Linked DNA regions of Homo sapiens: region 2 is linked to region 1. Evidence: fine-mapped expression QTL. Tissue or cell type: whole blood. Region 1 holds a variant in brackets; the other region holds the start of a gene. All regions are shown on one strand. Distances are between the middles of the regions.

Region 1 (7,614 bases):
TCCTTCAATTCTGCTCTGATCTTAGTTATTTCTTCCTTTCTGGTAGCTTTTGAATGTGTTTGCTCTTGCTTCTCTAGTTCTTTCAATTGTGATGTTAGGGTATCAATTCTAGATCTTTCCTGCTTTCTCTTGTGGGCATTTAGTGCTATAAATTTCCCTCTACACACTGCTTTAAATGTACCAGAGATTCTGATATGTTGTGTCTTTGTTCTCATTCGTTTCAAAGAACATCTTTATTTCTGGCTTCATTTCGTTATGTACCCAGTAGTCATTCAGGAGCAGGTTGTTCAATTTCCATGTAGTTGAGCAGTTTTGAGTGAGTTTCTTAATCCTGAGTTCTAGTTTGATCACACTGTGGTCTGAGAGACAGTTTGTTATAATTTCTGTTCTTTTACATTTGCTGAGGAGTGCTTTACTTCTAACTATGTGGTCAATTTTTGGGATAAGTGCTATGTGGTGCTGAGAAGAATGTATATTCTGTTGATTTGGGGTGGAGAGTTCTGTAGATGTCTATTAGGTCCAGTTGGTGGAGAGCTGAGTTCAATTCCCGGATATCCTTTTTAACTTTCTGTCTTGTTGATCTGTCTAATGTTGACAGTGGGGTGTTAAAGTCTCCCATTATTATTGTGTGGGAGTCTAAGTCTCTTTGTAGGTCTCTAAGGACTTGCTTTATGAATCTGGGTGCTCCTGTATTGGGTGCATATATATTTAGGATAGTTAGCTCTTCTTGTTGAATTGATCCCTTTACCATTATGTAATGGCCTTGTCTCTTTTGATCTTTGTTGGTTTAAAGTCTGTTTTATCAGAGACTAGGATTGCAACCCCTGCCTTTTTTTGTTTTCCATTTGCTTGGTAGTTCTTCCTGCATCCCTTTATTTTGAGCTTATGTGTATCTCTGCACGTGAGATGGGTCTCCTGAATAGAGCACACTGATGGGTCTTGACTCTATCCAATTTGCCAGTCCGTGTCTGTTAATTGGAGCATTTAGTCAATTTACCTGTAAGGTTAATATTGTTATTTGTGAATTTGATCCTGTCATTATGATGTTAGCTGGTTATTTTGCTCGTTAGTTGATGCAGTTTCTTTCTAGCATTAACGGTCTTTACAATTTGGCATGTTTTTGCAGTGGCTGGTACCGGTTGTTCCTTTCCATGTTTAGTGCTTCCTTTAGGAGCTCTTGCAGGGCAGGCCTGGTGGCGAGAAAATCTCTCAGCATTTGCTTGTCTGTAAAGGATTTTATTTTTCCTTCACTTATGAAGCTTAGTTTGGCTGGATATGAAATTCTGGGTTGAAAATTCTTTTCTTTAAGAATGTTGAATATTGGCCCCCACTCTCTTCTGGCTTGTAGAGTTTCTGCCGAGAAATCCACTGTTAGTCTGATGGGCTTCCCTTTATGGGTAACCCGACCTTTCTCTCTGGCTGCCCTTAACATTTTTTCCTTCATTTCAACCTTGGTGAATCTGACAATTATGTGCCTTCGGGTTGCTCTTCTCGAGGAGTTTCTTTGTGGTGTTCTCTGTATTTCCTGAATTTGAATGTTGGCCTGCCTTTGTAAGTTGGGGACATTCTCCTGGATAATATCCTGCAGAGTGTTTTCCAACTTGGTTCCATTCTCCCCGTCACTTTCAGGTACCCCAATCATACATAGATTTGGTCTTTTCACATAGTCCCATATTTCTTGGAGGCTTTGTTCGTTTCTTTTTACTCTTTTTTCTCTAAACTTCTCACTTCATTTCATTCATTTTATCTTCAATCACTGATACCCTTTCTTCCACTTGATCAAATTGGCTACTGAAGCTTGTTCATGCATCATGCAGTTCTTGTGCCATGGTTTTCAGCTCCATCAGGTTATTTAAGGACTTCTCTACACTGGTTATTCTAGTTAGCCATTCGTCTAATCTTTTTTCAAAGTTTTTAGCTTCTTTGCCATGGGTTCAAACTTCCTCCTTTAGCTCGGAGAAGTTTGATCATCTGAAGCCTTCTTCTCTCAACTCGTCAAAGTCTTTCTCCATCCAGCTTTGTCCATTGCTGGCGAGGAGCTTTGTTCCTTTGGAGGGGGAGAGGTGCTCTGATTTTTAGAATTTTCAGCTTTTCTGCTCTGTTTTTTCCCTATCTTTGTGGTTTTATCTACCTTTGATCTTTGATGATGGTGACGTACAGATGGGTTTTTGGTGTGGATGTCCTTTCTGTTAGTGTTCCTTCTAACAGTCAGGACCCTCAGCTGCACGTCTGTTGGAGTTTGCTGGAGGTCCACTCCAGACGCTGTTTGCCTGGGTATCAGCAGCGGAGGCTGCAGAACAGCGAATATTGCTGAACAGCAAATGTTGCTGACTGACCGTTCCTCTGGAAGTTTCATCTCAGAGGGGTTCCTGGCCGTGTGAGGTGTCAGTCTGCCCCTACTGGGATGTGCCTCCCAGTTAGGCTGCTCGGGGGTCAGGGACCCACTTGAGAAGGCATTCTGTCCATTCTCAGATCTCAAACTCTGTGCTGGGAGAACCACTACTCTCTTCAAAGCTGTCAGACAGGGACATTTAAGTCTGCAGAGGTTTCTGCTGCCTTTTGTTTGGCTATGCCCTGCCCCCAGAGGTGGAGTCTACAGAGGCAGGCATGCCTCCTTGAGCTGCAGTGGGCTCCACCCAGTTCGAGCTTCCTGGCTGCTTTGTTTACCTACCCAAGCCTCAGCAATGGCAGGCACCCCTCCCCTAGCCTCGCTGCTGCCTTGCAGTTCGATCTCAGACTGCTGTGCTAGCAGTGAGCGAGGCTCCATGGGCATGGGACCCTCTGAGCCAGGCGCGGGATATAATCTCCTGGTGTGCCGTTTGTTAAGACCATTGGAAAAGCACAGTATTAGGGTGGGAGTGACCCGATTTTCCAGGTGCCATCTCTCACAGCTTCCCTTGGCTAGGAAAGGGAATTCCCTGACCCCTTTCACTTCCCAGGTGAGGCGATGCCTCACCCTGCTTCAGCTCATGCTCGGTGTGCTGCACCCACTGTCCTGCACCCACTGTCCGACACCCCCAGTGAGACGAACCCGGTACCCCAGTTGGAAATGCAGAAATCACCCGTATTCTGCGTCGCTCACACTGGGAGCTGTAGACTGGAGCTGTTCCTATTCGGCCATCTTGGAACCACCTCACCAGGCTTGTTATCTTTAAAGTGCTTCCAGTAGTAATATATTTACAAAACATTTGAATTCAAGTGACAAAGGAGTATTATCAATAAAAGTCAGCAGCATTTTAAAAATATATTTGATCAGGTTATACTATGTGTTTTATTGTCATTCAGAAACTATTTGAATGTTCACTGTATGCCCAGAGGCCTTCCAGGAATTCTGTTCCTTTTGGACCCTTCCATTCGAATGGTAGAATGGTGATTCTTGAATATCACCCAATTGTGCTGGTCCTATCACCACTATGCCTTTTTTTAAATGATGAAAAACGTCAAACATATG[CAAA/C]AAAAAAAAAAAAAAAAAAAAGAATATGATGGACCCCATCTTCCAGTTTCAACAGTCATTGATTCCTGGCCAATCTCACTGAATCCATGATCTCAACCATTCCCCTCCAATACAGATAATTTTGAAGCAAAACCCAGACCCATAATATCATAACTATTTTGGTATATACCTCTAAAAGTTAGGGATTTTCCTGCGTGAATCCTGAAGCATTGTATATCAAGATGGTGTTGACAATTCCTCAGTTGTCTCGTGTTTTCTTCAATGGGTTTATTTTGCTCAGGATCCAAACATGGTGTACATACTGCATTTGATTTAAATTCTCTAAATCTTAAATTTAGGGTTTCTTCCTTTCTTTCCTTGTAATTTATTTATTGAAGAAACTATGTTATCTGTCCTGTGTTCTACATTCTGGATTTTGCGTCTATCCCTGGAGTAATAGGTTAATCTTTCCCCTATTCCCATAAACTGGTGGTTAGATCTAGCAACAAAAAGCTCTAGACCAGGGGTGATTTTCCCCCACCCAGGAGATACTTGGTAACATCTGAAGACATTTTTGATGGTCACAAGAGAAGTGCTATTGGCATACAGGCAATAGAGGCTAAGGATGCTGCTAACCATCCGAAAACAGGAAAGCCCCCTACAACAAAGAATTGTCTGGACAAAATGTCAATAGTGTCAGTGCTCCAGAGGCTTGTATCATCAAGTTCTTTTTTTTTTTTTTTTTAGCCAGGAGACACTTGATAAGTAATATCCTGTTCTTCTATTCAGATACATACCTGTCTGTTTCATTTTCACTGCTGTCACTTTACCTGCTCTTGGGCTCTTGATTCCTAATAGACCCTATCCACAAGCTCCAGAGACATGAGGGACACTGGCCAAGTGCAAAACTTTATTTCTGGATAAAGCGCTTGTGTCCTATCCTGGTGAACCCAATTACACTTCAACATTTATTGACCATCCACAATGTGCAGGATACAACAGCCCAGGAGAAGATGCAGAGCCTATGAGGAAACAAAGGCAAGTAGTCTAGAGACTGGGCAAACTAGAAAGAAACCTCTTGTCACTGCATACCCTAACCATGGAACAAGCAAGATGACAACCTCCTCTTTCTTTACTATTCCTCCCCACCTAGCCAAATATCCCAGAAAATCAAAGTTTTCTTCACCAAGAGACTAACCCTTCAAGATACAAGTCAAAGCCCTAAAAGCCTATACTAATATTATGGATAACTCAAAACGTAACTGCTTTGAGTTACTATGTTTTAGCAAATCTAAATACTAAAATGCCGGTATTTTTACATTTCTCTAAATACCAGAATATCTAAATTGTAATTTTGAGCATTAAAATCACTATATTTAAGGTATTCAGATTAACACTTAAAATATGCTTTTCTACTTTTAGCTCATGTAGTCAGTGATTTTCTTTAAAAAAAGTCTTAAAGCCCGTAAGACTTAAAAACTCTTCATACCTTAATGTAGAAAACTTAATAAGCCTTCTCACTGACTTATGCCCCAATCCCTTGAGTACTTTTAATGTTAAAGTCAAGAATAAAATGCCTTTGAAAAAATAAAATTGAACTATTCTTTAGTTAGACAACTCATTAGTACATTTACTCTTATCTCCCCCACCATTATATTTAGGTGTTGCATTATCCCTGGGATCTTTTCTGCATAATTGTCTTAGTAGATGCTATTCTTAAGTATAAGGATGCATAAATAATATTGGTACAATGGAATGAATTTAAGTGATTTAAATTCTAAATGTACATTATTTTCACAACTAAGCAAAATATATAACGTATCCTTAAACTTGTATTTGACAACTTTTTCAACTCAAGTGGATATTTTACAATAAAAATGTGTTACCTGGCTCTCTTTCTGCTTATTAAAAAGTGAAATCAATGTAGTAAAACATGTAATATGATTTAATGTACAGGGGCCATGAATGTAAATGCACAAGGAGTATCAAAAATATTAAGTCAAAATTATCTGAAGAGCCTACACTGACCAGGTAAGCACTTCACCCTGATTTAATAACTAATCATTCTATGTCAAATGTTAACAGTGAATGAAGTCAACAGGGCACAGAATAATAATACACAGCAGTGGGGAAACACTTCTGAAACATAACATTTTGTGAAAACTAGTTTTCAAATAATGACCCCTTGAGAGGGAAATAAGAAATGTTAAAAAGAAGAGGTAACAGTGGAGTAATTTTATTCACATAGGGTTGCGATTAAAAGGTTAACTCATTCAAACACATTTTTGCTATGCTAACATTCCTTTGCCTCTTATTCTTACAAATAAACCCCCATCACAGAGCAGAAATGTTAGAAATTATATCACAAATGGAGCACAATAAGTATTTTTAAAACCTTTTAAAATATGGCTTATAATTTTACACAGCAAGTTACCTATTAATATGTTACATATTAACAGATCTATTTGGACAATCAGATTTCCTTGAGATTAAGGATGGAGTTGGCATTTTTCCTTTAAGAAGGCATTTTAAGGCCGGGCATGGTGGCTCATGCCTGTAATCCCAATACTGGGAGGCCGAGGCAGGCAGATCACAAGGTCAGGAGTTCGAGACCAGCCTGACCAACATGGTGAATCCCCATATCTACTAAAAATACAAAAAATTAGCCAGGCATAGTGGTGCCTGCCTGTAATCCCAGCTACTTGGGAGGCTGAGGCAGGAGAATCGCTTGAACCTGGGAGATGGAGGTTGCAGAGCCGAGATCATGCCACTGCAGTCCAGCCTGGGTGACAAAGCAAGACTCCGTTCTCAAAAAAAAAAAAAAAAAAAAAGAAGGTATTTTAAGCCTGTTAGGGGAGGTTCTATAGTATGGAGCTTCTTTATAAAGTGGTATCTTATGTATATCAAAAAAAAAAAGCCAGATCAATCTCTGGGAAAACACTACATTTTAATGTATTTCTATCTGATATGTCATAAATTCTTTGCTATGAATGTCTACGCAGATACTTTAAGAAAAATTGATTCTCTGGATATACATCAAAACCTAGATTAACTTTGTACATTAACATTTATTTTAAAAAATTGATAAGAACAACATGTTAAATATTGGCAAAACTAAGAGCACTCAATTCGACTATCCGTCCAGCTTTCACAGAATTTACTTCTGAGCCCACAAGACTCAAATTGTATAAGGATAGAGTCTGTTTCATTCATCAACATATCCAGCACCTGACATAGTTTTACATGGCACAGAGTGGGTGTTCAATAAATATTTGTCAATGATTGAACAGAAATTTTCAGCACCAAATGAAAGAAACACATGACTTTGAACAACGGCACGAGAATACCAACTGTTTGATTATGCAACGACAGGATCTTTTGGCAAAAATTCTAGGATTACTTATAAGTAGATCAATAATTAGATAATAATTTCCTCCAAAAATAAAGGAATTCTCATGGGGAAAAAAAAAAAGTCCTAACATCTTATCCTAAAAGCTATTCTGTAAATCTTGGAATATAAGCTAGGTGAAAACCACAATACTAAGGAAGGCAATTCCAAAACTACTGTGTTTTACATATTTATTAAAGAATCCATTCTTTCTGATAATACTCCTAACACAGGTGAAGATATTTTTACAATATTTTACCAAACTCCTAATAGAAAATGTCTAATCAGTTCATCCTTTTAGTCCCTGAATCCATGTTTGAGCATTTTAAAGATGGAAGAAACCTGTAAGACTCATATCATTTTAAAAAAATTGACTTAAAACACTTATTGGATAACTAATACATTTGTAACAGCATCATGATTTGTTTTGCTATCTGTATTTCACCCAGAACTGCTGAATTACAGAATGAAACTCAAATGAAAGCATTCATCTATAATTTCAAAAATTATTATTTGAAATTTTTAAATCAATAGTCATAACATCATCGTGTTCCGAAATTAGAAAATTATTAGCACATATACAAACATATTTACCTATGTCAATTAGGTCAATGTCAGGATTTATCAAAATTCTCTGTCTTGAAAATTTTTTCAAAATCTTGGTTTTCAGGTACTATAAAAAATATGCACTAATCAAATGATATGTGTTCAGTTCTGACAATCCCACAATTAGGAGGAAAGGGAAGGAAAACACACTTATACAGTTAAGTTTCAAATCCTAAATATTTAGTCC
Region 2 (7,614 bases), 50 kb after region 1:
GACAAGAAGTGATCAGAAGTGAAGCTCAAGAGATAGCCAGTTCATGAAGGGACTTATCTGCCATTCTAAAGATCATGAACTTGAGCCCACAACTGTGTTTCTCAGTTTAACTGGGGACCACATGCCAACCAGGGATAAAACACATCCCTGGAATTCAGCCGGAGTCATTAATTTCAGGTGTGTGCTTCATAAAACCAAAGTCTGGGAATTCTCCACAAACTGAGTCAGAGTCTTGCGGGGCTAAGGTTCAGGTGTCTGCATTTTAACAAGTACTCTTGGTGACTAAAGGGTACAGGGAGCTTCTGTGGAGTTCCAAGCAAAAGAGAGAAAGGGCCAGATGTTCACTTTAGATAGACACTCTGGTAACTGTGTCTAGAAGATTTGAGAGGAGCAAGGATTCAGTTAGAAAGCTCTGGCAGTACTCCAAATCATGCTCTTTAATTTGATTAACAATCATATTGTATGTAATATACTTATTGCATACAATGTAGCAAAAGTATACCACCTGACAAAAGTATACCATGGTACGCTTATTGCATACCCTGTGGCAAAAGTATTATCTGCCCAAGTGCTACAACCTAAGCCACAAAATCTTCAGAAAACAAAAGGGAAATCCAAGGTGCTACACCTTCCAAGTCATCTAGTTTAATCCAATAACACGGCAGACTGTTAAATGAAATTATTCTATCCCATTATGAATTTTAAAAAACAAAACTAAAAATAGGAACCAGTAAAAGGGTTGCCGAGTTGTGAGACCTGGAATGATGGAGAGGAGGGCAGAAACTGCTGACTTCTTATTTGTTCTACATTAAAATTTTTTTTCCTTATTCAGTTCCCCATCCCTGGTGACAGGTGAAAAAGAGCTTTAAATAAAACCTTTTTTTGACCAATGAGGTATGTTTCTGGTGTCAAAATCCTTTCCAAGTCAGTTTTGTTTCATCTAGAGTTCTAATTTGTGTCAAGGACCCTGTTAATAGCAATTGCACATTTGCCAACAGCTACATCTCTTAATGATGCAAGTAAATTGTAATAATAGTTTTACTGGCCTTTGAAAGGTCATGAGACAGTAGAGGTAAAATGTTTGACCAGAAATCTGATATCACAAAATAAGTCACTGGTCAATCAATGGGGAAAAAGACAAGATTTTAAAATAAAGCAATGTAACCAATATGAAACGGTAAATAAAAGTCAAAACTTTGACTAGCTTGAAGGTTGTAAACCTATTCTGTGCATGCCTTATCAACTAAAAAATATTTCCTGTAATTGTTTACATTTCTACAAAGTTAGAAAATCATCAGCCTTCAGGGTATAAAATTATACTGGCACTCTATCCTTCATCTTCCATTTGCATTTTAACAAATAGCCTAAAACAGACCTGTTTTACATCAAAAAACCACCACCACGACAACAAAAGAGAATGCTTTGACAAAAAACCAAGTTACCATGACACTATAGACACAGCAGCCATGGTGAGACTCAAGCACTTGGCCACTTTCTTTTATATCCATCCAATTCACATGATTCACATAACTTAGTATTTTCTACCCCAGCAATATAACAAATAATACTTATCATCTTATCACTCCTATTACAGAATCCCATTTTAGGACAGCTTCACACAGCCCAGTATTCTTTGGCCTGTTAATAATCTCTCATCTGGTCTACAACTAATGCTATTGCATTCTGAGTATGGGCCTTTATATAAACTATAACACAAATTCAAATCAGTAAGGAACTTATCCAATAAAACTGTAATGACAACACCACCAACAAAAACTATTCCACTGCCTGGCAATTACAAAACTGTGTATTCTACAGCCCACGAGTTTTACTTCAAAGCTGGCTTATCCCAAACAGCATTACCTAGCAATAGACAAATATTTACCTATTAGAGATTTCTCCACTCAGAACGGGTACACTTAGGTAGTTTGACTTTTTAAGACTTATTGATTTTCCCTACATTTTAAAAGTTTTTTTATTAAGTGGTAATCTAGTTCAGAGGTCCAAGAGTTAATCCTAACTGAGATGCCACCCATTTTCTTGAGGCCTTGAAAACGTTATCCACAGTTTCAAAATGCCAGTACTGTAAAGGGCCTTGGAGGCTATCTGGTACTACCTCTGCAATTCACATACTGAATTAGGTGAAGCACTTTGAAAACTGACACTACTATACAAAAAGTATCATTTCCACCTATGAGGCCCAGAGAAGAACACACATAGGAAGTTAACCACACAGAACCAGGGCCTAGAACTGAGCTCTTCACTCTTAATCCCACACTCTGAACATGCCAAGTGAGCTATTTTAAATTGTTGTGGGAAGCTTCGATAAAACTGTATGCACATATTTATGCATACATGGCATTTGACAAATCCTACAAGCTAGACTTTGCAAAATTAGTACAACCCAAAGGGCACACCACTTTCCCCAAATAGTAACACTGTGCTTTCTTAGAACATTACTAGTCCCTATCTCACCTCTAGTTTCACTCCCTAATACAAACTCAACTACTCTAACCTCCTGTTCAAACCCTTTATTCTTTAAATGATGCAAGTGTATTCTATAAACAGTCATTTTCAAACACTTAGGAAAAAGAAAACAAATCTACACATCTAGACTCCCATCAGGTGAATGCAGGAGCCCTCTTCAGTAAACCCAACAAAGAAGCAGGATGTTTAATGTTGACAACAGATTCAGCACTTAAGCAAAGATGATTTACAATTTCATTTTGATGCCTCTACAAAATAACTTCGCTAAGATCACACGATACCAGAAGTTTCCAACAGGTTGTCTAGTCTTGCACAGAATTAAACTAAATCAGTTATGTGCAATTAATTCCAAAACCTTTTGGTGCACAGTGCCAACAATTAAGAGATTTCCAATATATTTTTCTGGACATACTGCTCATGGTAGCACCGGGCACTCTCCTTTTCCTAAAGTTGGTGGATGGTGGTATGGGATCAGAAACTGTTTTTAAAGTTGGTGGGGGGGGATGACAACAGGAAGATTCAAACTCTGGTTTTTCCCTTGGATTTGTATCTTTGCAGATATATTAATAAACATATCAAATATGGTATATTGTGGAGATACTGCTGCACAAGAGTCGCAGGCTTTTTTATTTCACACACTACCCAGTATACCAGCCCCTTGTCCTGACATTTCTCCTTAATAACGTACATATACAAGTCAAATTTTCTCCCTTTTCCTTCTTAGCACCAAAGACCTGTGCTTTTAAAACAAGCTCGTAGTGTCCAACGACCACGTTCCAGCAAGGAAAAGGCTCACGCTGAAGGACTTTCCGGAGTGCCCTAGGCCTCGCAGTCCTGCAGAGTAAAAGGGGGTGTGTCCGCGGTTGTTTCGGCCCTTTTCCCCCGGCAGCCCTCAGCGGCGCCCTGGGCCCCCTTTCTCGCGGCGGCCAGGGGAGCTGTTCGCAGGGCGTCCAGACCTCAGGCCACTGGCTCACTTTCTTGGAGTGGGTCCCAACCAGGGAACGAGGGCGGGGGCGGCGAGGGCACCAACGAATCCTCAAACCCCTCACTCTGAGGCCACTCGGCAGCCCCTCTTCGCCCTCCCCGCGGCGCCCCTGCCTCCTAAGTCCCTGCATGAACCACTGTCCCTCTCTCTCCCCCTCTCCCCGGCCCTGCCTCTCCCTCGCACACACGCCCAAAGGCAAAGGAGGCCCAGGGAGAAGCCAGAGGACCTGGGGGCCGCGAGAGAGGCAGGACCGGCATCTGCGGTGCCCTGGGAAGAGTCGTCCCGAGAGGTCCCCCCGAGGGGGCGCAGCCGCCACCAGAGCCCCGGCCGAGCCCGGGAGCGAAGCGGGGCCGAGCCAGGACCCACCAGCTGCTTCAGGTCCTCCTCCGAGAGCTCCGCGTAACGGTACCGCTGCTGCTCGAACTCGTACCGGGTGGTTTTGGCCACCACCACCACCCGGGAGGGGCGGAAGCCGCCGTCCGCGCGGCTGCCACAGCCCGCCAGCTCGCGCGGCTGCCCCTGCCCCAGGTGCCGCCGGCCGCCACCGTCACCGCCCAGCCGGGGCCGCGCGGCGGGGCCTCCCGCACCCGGTCCCCGCAGCGCCGCCGCCCGGCCGCCCGCCACGCGACAACAGCTGCCCAGCAAGAAGCCTCGGTAGCAAGTCATCGTGGGCCGGGCCGCGGCCGCGGGCTTGGGCTCGGGCCCCTTGCCTCAGCTCCCTACCGCCGGGAGTGCGCGCCGTCCGCGCCGCCCGGGCCTCTAACTTCGCGCCGGACGGGCAGAGGTTAAGTGCCAGGACGTGCGTGGCCCACGCGGCTAGGGGGACGTACCCAGGCGTTGACGAAGGCGGGGAAAGCGTGGCGATTGGGAAACGGGAGACCCCACGCGGGAGAAAGGTGGGCGGGGAAGAAATGGAGGCCCCAGCTAGTGGGTTTTGTTTGTTTGTTTATTCGTTTCACTCACGCCTGCATAATGGCTGCTTCGCCGCCCGGGGGCGACCTCCCCGCACCACACGCTTCCCCGAGGTCGCTCTTCTCCCGCCCCCAGGCTAACTCTATCGGCCAATCAGAGCCCGCGGCGGCTCCGGATCCGAGGGGCCGCGCCATTGGCTGCGGCCTGAGAAAGAGGTAGAATTCTGTTAGGCGATTGCGTCGCCCTGAGGAATCCAGCTGGATCCGGTCTGAGGCGGCGCGGGGCCAGCGGGTGGGGTTTTGAGCGGCTGGCGGGAAGGCAGGTTCCTGGCATATGCTCGCTTGGGTTCTGTTCTGCAGGCCGACCACGTGCCCATTGGTTTATTTGACCAGGGTCGGTGTGATAGCTGGTGTGTCTGGGGCCGGGCTGGGGGCTGAGGAGGCGGACCCGGCTCCTGCTGCACCGTGTGCGTGGCTTGGCACGAAATCCTCTCGGCGTGGGACCCAGTGCCCGCCCCGCTGCCCCCTGCCCCCCCGAAGAGCCCTACCTATAGGACAAAGTCCAAATGAATTAGTTCTTTGAAAGCTTTTAACTGGAAAGGAGTGAGTTAAAGCAATGTTTGATGACTATTGATCTGGCTTTGGAATCTTGGGTAGCTTGGGAGGCAAGAAGAGGAGGAAGGGATGCTGTTGGGATAATGACCCGTGGAGTGATCAGGACCTGGGCTGGGGTGTGACGAGAACAGAAGGAAACGTCCCATTGTAAGGGGAGAACCACATGGCAGTGCACATCCTGCTGTTCAATTCCGCAGCTCCTTAGATCCCCTTCCCCTGGCACTGTGTTTGCTCCTTTGTAGTCCTGGCGCTACGTCGCTTCTGGACTTTGGGCAGGTTACCTCATCTTTCTGGGCCTCAGATTCCTCATCTGTAAAAAGGGGGTTAGGGTGACCCCAAGGTTCTACCAAGTCCAAATCGATTCAGTGAATCTATGACTCTCCTCACGGGCCCACCAGCACCAGCGTTCATTCGTGGGTTCCCGCGGTGTGCCTGCTGTGTGCCAGGTAGTGTATTGGACTGGGAGCATACACAATGAAGCCCGATAGGTGTTTACTTGGTAAAGTTCTACCACTGACCCGTTCTCACCAAGAACTTTCCCTCACAGCAGCTGCTAATAGTGACGTGTAGTGTAACAACCTTAATAACCTGAGCTTCTAGAGGTAACATCTATAACTATCCTCAGACTCCTTTGTAGTCTTACTATTTTAAACTTCATTAGCATTAGGAAGGAAAAAAAAAAGGGAGAAATCACAGATGACGCTTAGGTTTGAGGCCAGGGTGAACAGGGGAATGTTAATTGATCCATTCGATAGAGAAAAAAAAATGCGTAGGGAGAAACTGTTTGGGATCAAAGTCTGAGTTTTGTTGCTCATATTTGAAATCTCGGACCTCATTTCTTCCCATTTCACAGATAAAAACCCAGATTTTTGACTCTCATTTCAGCTGCAAACATATACATTGACATCTCAGTTGGAATAGCCCTTTGTCCATAGTTATTTTGCGTCTCATCTTCCACCTCCTCAAAAATAGTGTTTCTGAAGGCATCCTCTCACAGGTATCTTGAATTTTCCCTCCCAAATGAGTTTGCCTCTTCAGTATTTAAATATGCTCATGTCTATGACATCTTTAAAATTTTTCTAAAAAAACAAAACAACCTCTAAGCCTTTGTTTTTACATATTGCCTGCCTTACCTTTACAGCTGATTCTCGAAAGAGTAGTCTGTTCATCATTGCCACATCCCTGCCTCCTAGTCATTCCTCAACCTGTTGTACACTAGCTTCTCCCCACTACTTTGCTAATTACTGCTGTTTCCAAGGTGACCAAAAGATCTTGTTGGAACTCAAAAGACTTTTTTCAGTTCTTTAATTGATTGATCTTTCCAAAGAATTTGAAATGGTTATCATTTCTTCTTGAAATCTTTTACTGTCTCCCAACATACCAGTCCCTAACAGTGTTTCTCCCATCTCTATGTCCCTTTTTGACTTCTTCCTAAACCCATCTCCAAGATGTCTTCTGTCCTCGTCTCCTTGTCTCTTCTTCTCCGTCTTTTTTCCTTCTCTCTCTCTCTCTCTGTCACACACACACGCTCCTGAGTTCATTCAGTGTTGTGTAATGGAAGGATCTTGGTTCAAATCTCAGTTTTATTGTTTATTAGCTTTGTGAAACTTGAACTGGTTGTTTAACCTTCCTGAGACTACTTCTGCATTTATAAAATATAATTGCTACCTTGTAAAATTGTGAATATATGCACAGATGCTTAGCACTGTGCCCATTACACAGTAGACACTTGGCAAATATTAGCCCCTTTCATGACCTCAGCTATTACTGGCATCTTTAGCCCAGATCTTTCTCTTGAATTTCCAATCCTTATCTAGTTTCCTTTTAGATAATGTCTCTTAAATCTTACACATGTAACACACATTCGTGGAGATTAAATTAAATTTGAGTGTCACTGTAGGCCAGGCATCCTGCTAGGTGCTACAGATGAAATGATAAAAAGCTTCCATGCCCTTGAGGAGCCTAAAGTCTATGCAGTGATAGAGTTATACACAGAATGCTGAGAAATTTGGAGGAGCAAGTCTCAAGTCAACCTAACAAGAGTTAGAGAAGGCTTTTTGGGAATGTGAAGAGCTAAGCCTTAAGTAATGAATTCAATATTAGCCATTATCAGCAAGAATGAGAAGGAAATTCCACAGAAGAAACACCATGAACAAATGCATAGAAGCAATGAACTAGCAATTTTGAAATTTTAGAGAATTTAGAGAGAGGCAGGCAACATGGGGAAGTGAGGCTAGAGAGGTAGACAAGGGTAAAGACAATGGAAAATGTTAAATCCATGCTTAGGAACCTGCCTTTTATCCTGCATATATTAGGAGGCAACCAAAAGGAGAAAATGACATGATTAGCTTTGCAAAAATTGTGAATTTTTTTTTTTTTGAGATGGAGTTTCGCTCTGTCGTCCATACTGGAGTGCAGTGGTGCAATCTCAGCTCACTGCAACCTCCGCCTCCCGAGTTCAAGGGATTCTCCTGCCTCAGCCTCCAGAGTAGCTGGGACTACAGGTGCGTGCCACCAGGCCTGGCTAATTTTTTGTATTTTTAGTAGAGACAGGGTTTCACCATCTTAGCCAGAATGGTCTCGATCTCCTGACCTCATGATCCACCCACCTCGGCC

Evidence for each region. PIP is the estimated chance that this variant, and not a neighbour inherited with it, causes the effect.
Region 2: it holds the start of NADK2, and the variant in region 1 is fine-mapped to the expression of NADK2 in whole blood (INTERVAL, PIP 0.96).

The regions. Positions count from the first base shown.
Region 1 is chr5:36,187,232-36,194,845 of GRCh38, forward strand. It overlaps NADK2 (NAD kinase 2, mitochondrial), which reads right to left. Exons shown (of 12, transcript NM_001085411.3): 12 at 5,358-7,614. It also overlaps a transcript of SKP2 not described here. Among named protein-coding and RNA genes, the nearest start is that of NADK2-AS1, 30 kb to the right of the region's middle. The variant CAAA/C (reference allele first, on the strand shown) is at 3,452.
Region 2 is chr5:36,237,661-36,245,274 of GRCh38, forward strand. It overlaps NADK2 (NAD kinase 2, mitochondrial), which reads right to left and starts at 4,265. Exons shown (of 12, transcript NM_001085411.3): 1 at 3,839-4,265. The coding sequence starts at 4,138. It overlaps LOC124900962 (a long non-coding RNA gene), which reads left to right and starts at 4,242. Exons shown (of 3, transcript XR_007058733.1): 1 at 4,242-4,368. RefSeq lists enhancers at 3,170-3,239, 4,590-4,789 and a silencer at 3,330-4,349.